Linked DNA regions of Homo sapiens: region 1 is linked to region 2. Evidence: fine-mapped QTL for protein levels in blood plasma. Region 2 holds a variant in brackets. A gene starts in the other region. All regions are shown on their forward strands.

Region 1 (8,341 bases), not on the chromosome of region 2:
CTGGCCTATGGGGGCAGCAGGCCTAGGGACCCCTGGGAGCACAGGCAGAATGTTTCCAGGGCAGATAATGGGATTCCCCCGCCCCACATGTCCTTCTGGGACTCAGTCCACCAACACTCCAGCCCCTACAGGAGCTGACAGAGCCGGGCAGGAGCTGGGTGCCTGAATCCAGTCGGGGGTACATCTGGCTTCCATGGGGCCCCCAGGATGAGCATGAGCTTCCAGGGGCTCACAGTGTAAAGAATGTGAGGAAAAGCAGCCAGGACCCTCTGGAAGACTGACCTGCGTCCAAGGCCACTGACCTCACAACGGCCCCTGTGACTGCTGGTTTGATCAGCCCCTCTGGTTCCCTCTGGACGGAATGGAGGATTCCCTAGTGTCCTCTCTATAACCTGCATCTCACCTGAACCCAGGTGAGCCCCCGGGAACCTCCAAGTCATCATCACTGGGGATACCTGGTGCTTCAAGCAGGAGAGAAGATCTGGCTAACCGCTGGGCCCCGGGCCCCAGGCAGAATATCTCCTTGAAGCTCTGAGCAGCCCCAGGGTGCACCAGCCTTCCACACTTCTGCTTTTGGTATTTCCCAGGGGCTCAGCTCACCTTGGGTTCCTGCAACCAGCAGCCACACCCAGAAGAGCCTCGGAGGGGTCATGGCCGTGCCTGGATGCCCAGATCCTGCAGCAGACAGAAGCGGAGGGGTGAGGCACGGGAGCCAGATGGCCCGAGGCCCCAGGGACTGGCCTGCCCATTCACCCTTCAGCCCAACCTGGGCTGTGTGGCAGGCGGGGTCCCTCTCTTGCAGAGCCCACTATGATCCCAGTAAGTGTGACGTGTGCTGTGGATGCCCCCGCGGGGGCCCCTCACCTGGTCTGCAGTGTGGTCCTGGAAGGATGTGTAACACTTGGCTAGATGAAGCGTGGGCTGGGGGCACCCCCTGGCAGTAAGGGCAGCAAGAATTGGTGACTAGAGGCAAGTGAGCTCATCTCAAAAAACCAGGCCCCGGGCAAGGCTGCCACACGGGCATGGGCGGGGAGATGGAGGAGGCCACAGGCGTGGGCCCAGGTCGGGAGGCCGGGTGAGCCTGGTTAAGATCTCGGCCTTAAGCTTCAGGCAACAGACCCCTGCAGGGACTGTCCCAGAGGGTCTCAGCAGGCAGAGACGAGGCTGCAGCCTGGAGAGTGGATGGGAGGGGACTCGTCAGGAGAGGGCACAGAATCCGGGCGAGGGGTGACAGAGATAAGTGGCAGGGAGATATATCGGGGCTCCGTGGTGTTCCGATGGGGAAGATAGATGAAAAGGGTCAGGGCTGCAGCCCAGGGTGGGCCAGGCTGGGGGAAGAACAGGGAGGAAATGCTGAAGTATCCCCAAGACACTGACACTCAGGCCAGGACTGGGGAGGTCCGGGTCTCCACCTTCTGGCCTGGTGTTCTTGCCTCCGTGTAATTTCCACGCTTTTGTCTTCGTCTGCCTCCCTCCCCCACACCCTGCCAATGGAGAGACAGTTATGGTTTCTCTGGCTCGGTAAGAATCCTGTGATACCTGACACTGTCCCCTCAGTTCAGCAAGCCTGGGGCAGGCCTCTGGGTGGCACTGCTGTGGGCACCGGCTGGGAGTCTGGGCCTGGTGACCTTGAGGCTGCTTGGAGGGGGCCTGGTGGACGGCTGCAATGGCATCCCCAGAGCTTGTCGGAAATGCAGTCATGGCTGGCCTTGCCCTAGCCCCTCTGCATGGGAGTCTGCATGAACAAGCGCCCTGGGAGCTGGGTGCACTGGCTGGTGAGCAGCTTTGCTCTGGGACTCGTGCTCGCTGGCACTGTGCAGCCACCCCTTGTCGGGGCTCCCCGGGCACCACTGGAGGCCTTACCGTGACCCTGAGAACCACCTTAGTTACACCTCACCTTACAAGTGAATGAGCTGACACCCAGAGAGGCAAATGGGCTCCACATCCACAGTCAGTGAGCCACAGGCAGGGGGTCTGCTCGGGGGAGCCCACCTCTCCTCCCTGTGTCAATGTCAGTAGATGGCTAAAGGGGCCAGGGTGTGACCGCCTGTCCTGTGTGCTGGGGACTGTGCTGGTTTTAGCACTGAAGTTTCCCTGTGTCCTGGGAAACCCCTCAGTCCCAGGCACGCCGGTATGGGTGGACGCCCTCTCCACTTCTGCCCCCAGCCACTTCACTCTGCTGCAGCCACTAGGTTTGTCCGTCCTGGGAGAGTAACTCAGGGCCTTGGAAAAATGGCCAACTGGCCAGGCGCGATGGCTCACGCCTGTAATCCCAGAACTTTGGGAGGCTGGGGCAGGTGGATCACTTGAGGTCAGGAGTTCAAGACCAGCCTGGCCAACATGGTGAAACCCCGGCTCTACTAAAAATACAAAATAATAATAATAATAAGCTGGGCATGGTGGTGTGCACCTGTAGTCCCAGCTACTCAGGAGGCTGAGGCAACAGAATTGCTTGAATCCGGCAGGCAGAGATTGTAGTGAGCCGCTGCACTCCAGCCTGGGTGACAGAGCAAGACTCTGTCTCAAAAAAAAAAGGGGGGGGGGCAACGAAGCACCTGGCAGGTGGCGTCGCTGCCCTTTGTGTGGCAGCGGCTATTTTTGCCTGATTCCTTCATACAGTTGAGACCCGGCTGCCTGTGTTGGCCCCTTCGTGCAAATCAGAAAAAAAGGTGCTCTTCCTTGGAGTGGGTGCAGGCCTAGGCCAAATGCACAGGTCTGAGAGAGGGCCAAGCTGAATTCTAACCCACTTGCCCTTTGGCTGGTATCCTTGTGCAGTGAGTAATCTGCCCAACTGTACACAGAGGCCCTGTGGGCCTGGGAGCAGCAATGATTGTTGCTGGACTCAGGAGCCCTGGATCCCCAGCTCCAGGCCTATGTGCAAACAGGGAGGCATGACCCCCACTTGCCTGTGTAGAGAGAGGGGTGCCCTGGCCGGGCGCGGTGGCTCACACCTGTAATCCCTACACTTTGGGAGGCCGAGGCGGGTGGATCACCAGAGGTCAGGAGTTTGAGACCAGCCTGGCCAAGATGGCGAAACCCTGTCTCTACTAAAAATACAAAAATTAGCTGGGCGTGGTGGCACGCGCCTGTAATCCCAGCTACTTGGGAGGCCGAGGCAGGAGAATCGTTTGAACCCAGGAGGCAGAGGCTGCAGTGAGCGGACATTGCATCACTGTACTCCAGCCTGGGTGACAGAGTGAGACCCTGTCTCAAAAAAAATAAAAATAAAAAAGAGAGAGAGACTGAGAGGGGTGCCCACCTGAGAGCTAGAGGCAGGAGCTTACCTGGCTGCGGTAGCTGCAACGGCCGTGTGGAGCCTCCTCGCTTCCAGCCACAGGATCCCTCTGCAGACTGGTCCTTTGACCCAGAAGCCTCTCCCAGTATGGAGCGTGGTCAGGCTGATCCCAGGAAATGCTTCAGAAAAGAGTCTACTTTCGATTTCCAGAAACCACCTGACATAGATGTCTTCCGGGATTGGCTGCTGCTGATACTCCCCAGGGCCCCTCTCTTTTGTCTCAGCTCTGCCTGTGGCTATCAGTGCCAGGCTGGCAGAGGCCCAAGGTGGGAGTCTGGCTGGAGCAAGGCCTGCAAGAGGACTAACAGCCACACTCAGTTGGAAAGGCCGCCAGGCTGGTCAGGGGCTGGCGTTTGGTGGACGGGAGGGGAAGAAGCAGAGGCTCTGGGCCCAGACAGTCTGCACCTGGTGGTGTGGCTGTGGACTCTGACAGAGCGCTCCGAGTCTTTTCCTGGGTCTAGCACGTTGCTGGCTGGGTGAACACCACACAGGGGGCTGCTTATGTGCAAATCCACCCTCTCTGTGCTCTTGGCATGCTGACCACACAGAGGGCCTGTGCCCCACAAGGTTGCATGGCACTGTCCCCTGTCCCCAGGGGAGGGAGGCACTGAGAACCAGGTATGCAGCTGGCCAGTGGAGGAGCTGGACCCTGCTCCAACACCTGACCCCAGAGCCTGTGCTCGCCACTGCTGGACCTGTGGCCACTCTCCTACTGTCTCCCCCTCAGCGGGGCGGGGGACAGAGCCTCTCTGGGTGACATAATGGCTCTGTCCAGCTCATACCCATTCCCTTTCCTCCCACTGAAAGCCGGCACCTCAACTGTCCCTTGGGGAGCACCCCCTCCCATTCCCGGCTGTGTGGTTCCCAGAGGGCCCCCAGCTCTTGGCCTTCAACCACCCAAGGCCTGGCTGTCTGAGCCCTGCGGGGGCCCCGGGCCACACTGCTGGTTTCAGGGTGGGGCTGTGAGCCCAGCCAGCCGGTGAGAGCCAGCTTCTGACTGAGAGGATGTGGGCCCAGGCTGCTGGGGCCGGTGGGGCAGAGCAGAGGGAAGCAGGCATCCTCCGGCCTGAGCTCCTGGGTCCAGCTGGCCTAATCCATGGTCAAGGCTGGGCTTCACCGCTCAGTGAGGCAATCAGCAGCCGCTCTTGTTTCTGTCACTTGCACCCCATGGTTCTGGATGAGCCTTGGGATGTGCCCAGGCCTCTGACCAGTGGTTCTCAGCCTGGGCTGGACAGAAGAATCATCAGGGAGTTTTACAAACTCCTAATGCCTAGACCCAGGAAGTCACCATCTCTGGGAGTAGGGGACAGGCAGGGGCATTTAAAAGCCCCCAGGCAGTCCCACTGGGTGGAAGGCCCTGGTTCCCTGGCAGCTTAGAGTCCGAGACAGCCAGCCCAGAGGTCAGACATTCAATGACTATTTCCTTCAAGGTGTGAGGTTTTAGGCAGCTGCACGGTTTGCCTAATCCCCTCCAGAGGAACTGTGAAGATCCAGGGGCAGGTGCAGCTGGAAATAGAACTGGCTGTGGGGAGTTTAAAAAAATCTCATCTGGATTAAGGGCCTGAGTGCACAGAAACCCCAGCATCATCCCTTCTCAGCAGTGCTAATGACTTCTGCCCAAGTGGCCAGGGAAGGACAGGAGTGCAGAGGACGGGAGGGCATCTCTGGGAAGTGCTGGGAAAGGTTTTAAAACTCAGGTGCCGAATCTTTAGCCCCAGAGTCCGGGAAAGTCCTAAGCCATCCAGGCAGGTAAAATGGAAAACCCAGAGGCCTCCTCGTGGAATCGGAGCACCAACATCTGCTCCCCTGGGGCTCGCAAGGCCTTTCCGGTGTGCGATGACCATGGGGTGGAGGGAAGCGCTGACAGGGGACAGGCAGGGGAAGGGGCAGCGGCTCGGCTCTGAGAAGACAGCTGGGTGAAAGCCTCAGATTCGTGTGGACAGAACTGCTGTCATCAGGAAGCCGCTCCCAAGACATGGTAGGGAAAGTGCGGGGCATTTCAGAGATGAGAATGGTTAACTGGCCTGTAAGGTCATCTTTTGTGCCTCTACCCCAAACCTCTCCGCAAATTGAGGAACGCTCCCTATAATAGCTAATATGGATTTCGCCAGGCATTACTATAAGCCTTGCCACAAATGAATGCATTTAATACTTCCAGCCATGATGGGAAGCAGCTGCTCTTATATTCCCTGTTACAGATGAGAAAACAGAGGCTCAGTGAGGCGACGTAATCGGCTAAAGTTGTGCAGCTGGTAGGGGAAGAACTGGGGTTTCAAACCCATCCTTTCCTTCTTTTTAAAAATTGGCTTTCTTGGCATATAATTTACGTGCAAAGTTTTGGCAAATGTGTAGCGATGGTATCATGACAACAATCATTACCTAGGGCGTTTCAATCACCCCTAAGAATTCTCTTATGCCCCTCTGCAGCCACCCCTCCCCCCAGCCCCTTCCCAGCAACCACCTCTCAGCTTCTGCCACTGCTGGTTGCCTTTCCTAGAATTCCCTCTATTTTGTCTTCTTTTTTAAGACACAGTCTCCCTCCATTGCCCAGGCTGGAGTGCAGTGGAACAATCTCGGCTCACTGCAATCTCTGCCTCTCAGGTCCAAGTGATTCTCCTGCCTCGGCCTCCCGAGTAGCTGGGATTACAGGTGCGCCCACCACCACGCCCAGCTAATTTTTGTATTTTTAGTAGAGAAGGGGTTTCTCCACATTGGCCAGGCTGGCCTCGAACCCCTGAACTCAGGTGATCCGCCTGCCTCTGCCTCCCAAAGTGCTGGGATTACAGGCATGAGGCACCACTCCTGGACCCTAGAATTCCCTCTAAATGGAATCATACAGTATTTAATATTTTGCATGTGGCTTCTTTTACTTACCACAGTGCTTCTGAGATCCATCCATGCTATCTCAACAATCAGTAACTGGCTCCTGGTTTTGCTGGGTGGCGGCCCACTGTATGGACAGAACACCACTGTTAATACATGTTTGCACTGATGGACATTTGGGTCATTCCATCTTCCACTATTATGCATAAAGCTGCTGGAAACATTTGGATACAAGTCTTTGTGTGAAAATAAGTATTTATTTTGTGTAAATACCTAGGAGCAGGATTACTGGGTCATATGGTAGATATATGTTTACCTTTTTAAGAAACTACCCAGCACTTCAGGAGGCTGAGGTGGGTAGATCACGAGGTCAGGAGTTCAAGACCAGCCTGGTCAAGATGGTGAAACCCCGTGTCTACAAAAAAATACAAAAATTAGCCAAACATGGTGGTAGGCGCCTGTAATCCCAGCTATTCGGGAGGCTGAGGCAGGAGAATCGCTTGAACCCAGGAGGCAGAGGTTGCAGTGAGCCGAGATCACACCACGGTACTCCAGCCTGGGCAACAGAGCGAGATGCCGTCTCAAAAAAAAAAAAAAGAAAAGAAACTGTTTTCCAAAGTTGCTGAAACATTTTGCATTCTTGCTAGTAATTTCTTCATGTTCCAGTGGTTTAAATCGTCACCAATACTTGGTATTGTCAGTCTTTAAATTTCATCCATTCTGGTGGGCATGTAGTGAAGTTTCATTGTGGTTATAATGACGAATGATAGGCCGGGTGCTGTGGCTCACGCCTGTAATCCCAGCACTTTGGGAAGCTGAGGTGGGCAGATCACCTGAGGTCAGGAGTTTGAGACTAGCCTGATCAACATGGAGAAACCCCATCTCAACTAAAAAATACAAAAAAATTAGCCGGGCGTGGTGGCGCATGCCTGTAATCCCAGCTACTTGGCAGGCTGAGGCAGGAGAATCACTAGAACCTGGAAGGCAGAGGTTGCAGTGAGCCGAGATCGTGCCATTGCACTCCAGCCTGGGCAACAAGAGTGAAACTCCGTCTCAAAAAAACAGAAAAAAAAAAAAAAGACGAATGATGTTGAGCATCTTTATGCTTCTCTGTCATTCACACATCCTCTTTGGCAAAGCGTCTGTTCAAATCTTATGCACGTTTGAAAACTGGCTTGTTTGTTGTGTAAGTTCTTTATATATATTCTGTTCCTGTAGCAGATATATGATTTGCACTTTTATTTTTAATGAAAAGCTTGCTTTTCATTATCTTTTTTTTTTTTTCTTTTTTTTGAGACAGAGTCTCGTTCTGTCGCCCAGGCTGGAGTGCAGTGGTGCGATCTCGGCTCATTGCAAGCTCCGCCTCCCGGGTTCAAGCCATTCTCTTGCCTCAGCCTCCCGAGTAGCTGGGACTACAGGCGCCCGCCACCATGCCGGCTAATTTTTTGTATTTTTTTAAGTAGAGACGGGGTTTCACCATGTTGGCCAGGATGTTCTCGATCTCTTGACCTCGTGATCCACCCACCTCCGCCCCACAAAGTGCTGGGATTATAGGCGTGAGCCACCACGCCTGGTGAGCAGAGGGTGACTGAATAGAATGGGAGGCAGGATGGCCCTAATCAGTCCCAGCTTGACTTTTCCCTTTAGCTGGTGATTTTGGGGCCCAAGATATTTTCCTTTCACAACTCTGTTCTCTGTGGGAACAAATGACTTCAACTTTAAGGCAGGAGAATGGTGTGCACCCGGCAGGCAGAGGTTGCAGTGAGCCGAGATTGCGCCACTGCACTCCAGCCAGGGCGACAGAGAGAGACTCCGTCAAAAGAAAAAAAAAAGAATGTATCCATTTGTCTCTCATCTACCTGTGACCTGGAAGCCCCCTCCCCACTTGGAGTTGTCCTGCCTTTCCAGACTGAACCAATGTTCATTTTACATGTGTTGATTGATGTCTTATATCTCCCTAAAATGTATAAAACCAAGCTGTGCCCTGACCACCTTGGGCACACACTGCCAGGCCCTCCTGAGGCTGTGTCAGGGGCGCCCACGTCCTCAACCTTGGCAAAATAAACTCTAAATTAACTGAGCCCGGCTGGGCGCGGTGGCTCACGCCTGTAATCCCAGCACTTTGGGAGGGTGAGGAGGGCAGATCACTTGAGGTCAGGAGTTCAAGACCCGCCTGGCCAACATGGTGAAACCCCATCAATACCGAAAATATAAAAAATGAGC
Region 2 (8,341 bases):
CAGCTATGAGGTCAATAGGTGATAGAATTTTTCAGCTCCATTATAATCTTATGGGACCACCATCATACATATGGTCCTGTGTTGACTGAAACATTATTATGTAGTGCATGTCTATAACCAGAAAAGCTTTCCTTTCAGGCTACCTACTGGCCCCTTCTCCACATGTTTGATTATGGCTTTGATCCTCACATTTGAGATATTCTGCCTCCATTTTTACTGAAATGCAAAATAAACAGCTCAGATTATTCTATCTACCAGGTAAGACCGTTTGTGAAAAAAGCTGAAGACTTTTGAATCTGATAAACATCTTTACACTCTGAACTCTGAACGAGTAGGGACCATGTCTGCTTTTGTCCACATTATGTCACTACAGCCTAAAGCAACCTGGAACATTGAATATATTAAATAAATATTGAATATACTGAATAAATAGAATATGCTGAATATTCATATATGAATAGATGAATAACTATATAGATATAAATATTCATTATATAATTACATCTATAACATGTAATACATATTTATATATACATTATATAATATATAATTTATATTATGTTAATATATTACATAATATATTATATAATAGGCAAATATATAATATATATAATATATAATATAATAAATATATTATCATATTAATATAACATATATTATAAATATATATTTCCCAATTATATTATATGTAATACCATATATATTTGGCAATTATATAATATATAATATAAATATATGTATAATTATATGTAATTTATATTATGTTAATATATTATATATTATATTAGTTGGCAAATATATTATATATTATATATTTTATATATCATAGAATTGGCAATATATAATATTAAATATATTTATATTATTATATAATATATAATTATATATATATATATGGCACAGGCATAGTACAAAAGTGAGTGATTAACTCTTTTGGGGAAGTGGGTAATCAAGGTAGGAATACAGAAAAGATGACAATGAATCAGGGTTTTGAAAATGAGCAGAATCTGGGGTAAGGTCATTCCAGGATGGAAAATATCATGTTAAAAAGCATGAAGGTATGAACAATATGGAACTGAGAGCAGTTTTAATTTTTCATAAAGACAACATTTATTTTTCACCTTAACATTTATTTTTAATATGCCTTACTTAGGTTAAGAGAAAACAAAGATTTAAAAAGCCAAGTGTCCCTTTTATTATTATACTTTCTTTTCACATAACCTTTTCAGCCTAGATTCAGGTAACTTCCTGTCTCTCCCATTAAAGGAGAGGGGTCCTGCACATTACAACAGGCAAAAAAGGCTTTCAGGAAATAAAATGTTTTAATTTGATCTATTACATCTGTTCAATTTTCTTGAGTACCTTCGAGAGTGGGAAAAAGACAAAAGGAGAAAAAAATGGTATTTTAAACAAACAGACTATAATAACCTTAGTTAGGTTGGTAGTACACTATTTATGCTTTTTCTCTAAACAGGTACAAAGGAGGTTCAAAAAGAAGAGGCTGGAGAGGCATGTAGCCGGTAGCATCCGACTCATCAATTTCTTCCTTTATTTTTCTGATCGCATAAATTGATCTGGCTTTCACAACCTACCCAAAATATAACATTGAATTACTATCTATACAAATGAAGTAAAAATTTATTGTTTGCTTTGGCAGTAGTGACCTGGATTAATATTATTAGTGAGACAATATATATTGTTTATGAAACATTTTGCTTTTCTCCCTTTCACTTTGAACTAGAGATGAAGCTTGATTTTGTTTTTTCTTTAAGTTTCTAACCTTTGATTTATTTTTTTTTAGCATATAGAAGTGATAATAAATATTTTGTGGATTACTATATTTTAAACCGTGGTTACCTTGGGAAGATTTATTTAATCTCTGAAAAAGGAAAACCACCTAGTACATGTCTATGAGTGATTTAGACTAACTGACACTATTTAGTCTATAAAATACCCCTGACAGGTGTAGTGGGCCAGAAGGGAGGTGAACACTGAAGCATACTCAGTGCAATGAGGAATGAACAATATTCCCTATGGCTACATTTGTGCACCATGGGAAGTCTGTTTGCTTTCTGGGCAATGTTCAAAAGGGATTGGTTTATCATGAACTGCACGAAATGTTGGTATGTATATTTTCCAGAAAAAAAAAAAAGCTCACATTCATCAGAGATAATGAAGCCATAGGATTTGTGGCATTTTCTGATGTTACTTTCTTTTTTCTTAGTCTGCACAGTCTCTCTGAGAATCTCATCTACTTCCATGGCTTGAACTACTGCCTGTGTCCTGATCAAGCCAATATAGCCAAACCAGATCTCAATCTCAGCATCAGCTTTTGTTTTACATAACACAACTAGCTACAAACGTGGATTTTCTACAGCAACCTAACTTTTCTTTTTCCAGGATTTTCACTGTGGTTATATCATCCATTTACATCATCTATTTATTATCATACCCACTTATTATTATCATCTACTTACTGTATAGTGGAGAATATGTGATATAGTTAGGAATATGCCGGCAAAGCACAGTCACGCAATCTGAGCCCAGAACTGCTTTTCTAGACCGCTCTCATCTATAAGACCCATATCTGACTGCACAAAAACTCCTGATTTCCTTTGATCCATTCCTTCCATTCTATTCCAATTTTTGGACTTCGGCTTATTTTTATCTACTCCAGCCAGGCATCTTGGGTAACAGCAATGGTGCAGACAATTAAGAGGAAAATCCAAGGGCATTAAGAGAGAGGACAAATTAATAGCATCTAAAACACAGCATTTTAACAAAGAATCGTAGGGAAAAAGTCAAACAGTAGAAGATACCTTTTTTCAGGAAAAAAAAAAAAAAACACCACACACATAAACTTGAAAAACATGATATTCAGTGGGTGAGTAGAGGAAGAAGACTCAGCACAAAAGACAAGGAAGAACTTTTTGACGCTGCAAGAGAAAAACAAGAAGCAGTCAGGGTCATGGAAAAGAACAAAGAAGTTCGTGGCCTGCAAGAAATCCATAACCTGCCACATAGAATTTAAGTTGTTTTTCCTGTGTGGTAGAAGCAGAAATAAAACCTTGCAAGATTGGCAGTAATAAATGTATAAAAATGAAAGTCCCTGAGTGCATAAATGAAAGTTGTTCATGCTCACGGTTTTTTGTTGAGAAGAGAGATACTGATGATTGCACTGAGATAGCACATCCAGGGGAGTTTTATTTATTTCTGGGTATTCCTCCTCATCTCCCCAACGTCTCAACAGCAGAGTGAGCCAGGGTCCAGTTTCTGTTCTGTTTTCTCTCCTATTTTCACTCCCTTGGTGATCTCACTAGCCTCATTGCTTTAAATATAATCTAGAAGGCTGATGACTCTTAAGTCTTTATCTCTTGCCCATAGCTCGTCTCTCAACTACAAACCCATATATGCACTGCCTAACAACACCCCTGCTTAGAATTCTAATATGGTGCAAACCTAGAGGTCTTCTTTTCCTCGCCTTTTCTCATCCACTACATCCAATCTCTCATCCAACCCTGTTGCTTTGTTTTCAAACGCTATGTAGAAACTGAGGGCTTCTTGTCACTTCCTTGCTAGCATCCTGTCCAAGCCCCATCATCCCTTTCACCGTGACATTTCTTTTTTTTTTTTTTGAGACAAGGTCTTGCTCTCTTGCTCAGGCTGGAGTGCAGCCGTGTGATCACATCACTGCAACCTTGACCTCCTGGGTTCAAGTGATTCTTCCACCTCAGCCTCCTGAGTAGCTGGGTCTACGGGTGCATGCCACCATGCCCATCTAGAGATGCAGTCTTACTATGTTGCCCAGGCTGATCTCAAACTCTTTAGCCTCAAGCAATCTACCCACCTCAGCCTCCCAAATTTTTGGCATTACACACATGAGCTATTGAGCATGGCCTCACCTTGTTGATTTTAATAGCTCCCTGACTTTCACGCTTACATTCTTGAATTAATTCTCCACACACTTCCCAGAAGAATCCTCTTAAAAAGTAAGGCAGATTGAGTCACTCCCATGCTCAAAGCCCCTGAATGCCTTCTCGTCTCACTCAGGCCGTCATTAAAGTCTGACTCAAAAAAGCAGACCACCTGTAATTCCTGCACTTTGGGAGGCTGAGGCGGGTGGATCACCTGAGGTCAGGAGTTCGAGACCATCCTGGCCCAATGATGAAACCCTGTCTCTACTAAAAATACAAAAAATTAGCTGAGTGTGGTGGCGGGTACCTCTAATCCCAGCTACTCAGAAGGCTGAGACAGGAGAATTGCTTGAACCTGGGAAACAGAGGTAGCAGTGAGCCAAGATCAGGCCACTGCACTCTAGCCTGGGCAACAAGAATAAAACTCTGTCTCCAAAAAAAAAAAAAAAAAAAAAAAAAGGAAAGAAAGAAAAAGCAAGCAAGCAAGCAAGCTGA[C/T]TGTTCCTGAACATCCATTTTCAACCTACAACCCCTTGGGGCTTTGTCTTCCCCACCCTGGCTTCATTTTCTTTCCCCCAAAAACATATATTCCTTATTTGTCTTGTCTATCATCTGTCTTCTCTCATCCAAGCCAGATCCATGATGTGGACTTTTGATCTCTTTGGTTCAGGGATCAGAGAGTTCCTGAAGGTGCTCATTACATACATAATGCCGTATTTAAAATTACATAAATAAATGAAAGGCAAGATATTTTTCAAGATGACTGGATTTTATATCTTAGGTTATGCCTCAAGAAAACTTTGTGGTTCACTAAAGTAGGGATTTTAAAAATTCTTCTGTTACATATTGGAAAATAAAATATTTCTCTCTGCACTGCACGTAACTAGCAAACTGAAACAAAAAATATTACCCTCAGTGAACCCACTTTGCTTCAAAAGCATTTATTATTAAAATTACCAGATTATTTCAGCTGCTTACTCTGGTTATAATCATTGTAATTTTTTAGTAACGTGAACATACATACTTGCATGAGCCTTCATTAGCAGGCAGTGAACAACTCACACTGTTCAAGTGTGCCTTTTAATATCAGTTCCACAGTTAGGACAAAAAGTAGCTTCACATAAAGTTACTCTTCCTATTAAATGTCAGTGTGCTGATAAACGATTGTAAAATCCTTGGAGTTTGTGTAATCTATTAAAAGCACGTGCTCATGAGAAGTGAAACACGTTTCTGTAATATCAGCATTTTATCAAGTGGATGAAAAGTTTACAGGAAATTCATAATGAAAGAATTTCAAGGTTAATTTGTTGGGAACCATATACCTTACTTTTTTGTTTTTATTATAAAACATTTTAATAATATTATAGATATGTTAGGATGAAATTTCTGTCATCTCATCACCCTAATAAAGGAAAAAAACCCTTAATTTTTTAAATGAAACTCGAGTCTTTGGATGTATGTATACCTGTAACATAGTTCATATCATCATGCACGTATCATTTGGTATTACGCGTTTTCCTTAAAATCACCTCATTATTTTAATATTTCAAACGAATTTTTCAAACTTGAAATTTTTTTTATTATTCTTTAGGTTCTGGGATACACGTGCAGAACGTGCAGGTTTGCTACATTGGTATACATATGCCATGGTGGTTTGCTGCACCCATCAGCCCATCATCTAGGTTTTAAGTCCCACATGCATTAGGAGTTTGTCCTAATGCTATGCCTCCCCTTGCCTCCCACCTACTGACAGGCCCCGGTGTGTGATGCTCCCCTCCCTGTGTCCACGTGCTCTCACTGTTCAACTGTCACTTATGAGTGAGAACATGCAGTGTTTCTTTTTCTGTTCCTCTGTTAGTTTGCTGAGAATGATGGTTTCCAGCTTCATCCATGTCCCTGCAAAGGACATCAACTCATCTTTTTTATGGCTGCATAGTAGTCCATGGTGTATATATGCCACATTTTCTTTACCCAGTCTATCACTGAGGGACATTTGGGTTGGTTCCAAGTGTTTGCTACCTAATAATTCAACACACATACATATATATATATATATATATATATATATATAAAACAACATATATATATGTGTTGAATTATTATGTAGCAAAGACTTGCTTATATATATAAAACCTTATTTTACATATATTTCATATATACGCAAAACCTTATTTTACATATATTTCATATATACGCAAAACCTTATTTTACATATATTTCATATATACGTAAAACCTTATTTTACATATATTTCATATATACGTAAAACCTTATTTTATATATATTTCATATATGTAAAATCTTATTTTATATATATTTAGATATAATCTTATTTTATTTATATTTCAAATATATAAAATCTTATTTACATTTCATATATATATAAAATCTTATTTACATTTCATATATATATAAAATCTTATTTTATATATTTTTATATATATTTTATATATATAAAATCTTATTTTATATATATTTTATATATATTTTATATATATAAAATCATATTTTATATATATAAAATCTTATTTTATATATATTTTATATATTTTATATATAAAATCTTATTTTATATATATTTTTATATATAAAAAATCATATTTTATATATATTTTATATATTTTATATATATGAAATCTTATTTTATATATATTTTATATATATTTTATATATATATAAAATCTTATTTTATATATATTTTATATATATATAAAATCTTATTTTATATATATTTTATATATATATAAAATCTTATTTTATATATATTTTATATATATATAAAATCTTATTTTATATATATTTTATATATATATAAAATCTTATTTTATATATATTTTATATATATATAAAATCTTATTTATACAGCCATTTTTCTAAATAAAAAATACAGCCATTTTTCTAAAATATAATTTTTTCTTTTAAACTTTTTTTCCTTTTCCCAGGGGGCAATGCTTCACTGATATAAATAATGATGTTATAAATATTTCCTTTTTTTTTTTTTTTTTGAGATTGAGTCTTGCTTTGTCACCCAGGCTGGAGTGTAATGGTGTGATCTCAGCTGACTGAAACCTCTGCCTCCTGGGTTCACGTGATTCTCCTGCCTCAGCTTCCCGAGTAGCGGGATTATAGGCGTTTGCCACCATGCCCAGCTCATTTTTGTATTTTTCACCGCGTTCATCCAGCTGGTCTCAAACTCCTGACCTCAGGTGATCCACCCTCCTTGGCCTCCCAAAGTGCTGGGATTACAGATGTGAGCCACTGCCCCGGCCATTATTTTCATAATTTAGCTTTCTTCTTTTAAAATGTTTCTTTAGGATAATTCATCATATGTGAAACTAAAAAGTGAAAGGAAAACTATTTTGAACTTCTTGGGCTCTACTGTCTTAGTGATCTTTAAAAAGATAACATAAATTTATAAATATTCCAGACTTATATGTGAATATGGCAGTTTCAAGCAAAATTCACTACCATTGAATAATAAAGCTTATTTTAGAATCATTTAGATTTTGATAAGAGTTAAATAATACCTAAAAGTGGTTTTCATTTTTATTTTTTATTATTAATGTAAGAGAGAGATTTCACTGTAATTGTCTGTCATACATTGTTCTTCTTGGGTTATTATCTATTCATATTCACTGCTTATACATCCCCACAGGTTTCTTTTACCTAAGCATGTGAATCAGCTCTTTATGTTTAATACATATTTACCATCTGTCTTTTCATACTTGACATGCATTCGTTTTCCTAAGATTTTTCCCTATTTAGTTTTTTTATCATATTCTTTCTTTTTTCTTTCTTTCTTTTTGTTTTTGAGATGGAGTTTCGCTCTTGTTGCCCAGGCTGGAGTGCAATGGCGTGATCTTGGCTCACCACAACCTCCGCCTCCTGGGTTCATGTGATTCTCCTGCCTCAGACTCCGGAGTAACTGGGATTACAAGCATGCACCACCACGCCCGGCTAATTTTGTATTTTCAGTAGAGACAGGGTTTCTCCATGTTGGTCAGGCTGGTCTTGAACTCCCGACCTCAGGTAATCCACCTGCCTTGGCCTCCCAAAGTGCTGGGATTACAGGCGTGAGCCACCGTGCCCGGCCCATCATATTCTTAAGGCCAACTTTATCTTCAACATTTGGAATAAATAATAAGCTTGTGATCCTCCTTATTATATAAAATAATAACTTTGATTTTTGTAACAGCAGTTGAATGTGTATATAAAATGAAAATTAAATTAAGATTATTTGTGAAACTAACAGCTTTATGCTTAAGGAACCCGTCTGTAAGACAGATTTTAGTAAGAAATGGAAATATTTATATTGTGCCTGATGTCACTGATATTCATCCTTGGTAGCAAAGAAGAAAGAGCATCAACTTTTGAATCTGAAATCTAGATTTGAGTATTGACTGTGACATCATTTAGCTGTGTGATCTTAG

Direction of the effects. Alleles are on the strand shown, and positions count from the first base shown. The strength of an association depends on the size of the effect and on how common the allele is.
For the plasma level of the protein whose gene starts at base 3,384 in region 1, allele T in region 2 goes with a higher level than allele C (weak association).

The links. PIP is the posterior inclusion probability: the model's chance that the variant is causal. The UK Biobank Pharma Proteomics Project read protein levels with antibody pairs (Olink). The fine-mapping took linkage between variants from a reference panel, not from the people measured, so its PIPs are less certain.
Region 1: LGALS3BP starts here. The variant in region 2 is fine-mapped to the plasma level of the LGALS3BP protein (UK Biobank, PIP above 0.99).

What each region holds. Positions count from the first base shown.
Region 1 is chr17:78,976,540-78,984,880 of GRCh38, forward strand. It overlaps LGALS3BP (galectin 3 binding protein), which reads right to left and starts at 3,384. Exons shown (of 6, transcript NM_005567.4): 1 at 3,285-3,384; 2 at 601-675. The coding sequence starts at 652. RefSeq lists enhancers at 1-320, 3,418-4,410.
Region 2 is chr8:16,183,017-16,191,357 of GRCh38, forward strand. All of the region lies in intron 1 of MSR1 (macrophage scavenger receptor 1), which reads right to left. Among named protein-coding and RNA genes, the nearest start is that of MSR1, 5.5 kb to the right of the region's middle. The variant C/T (reference allele first, on the strand shown) is at 4,410.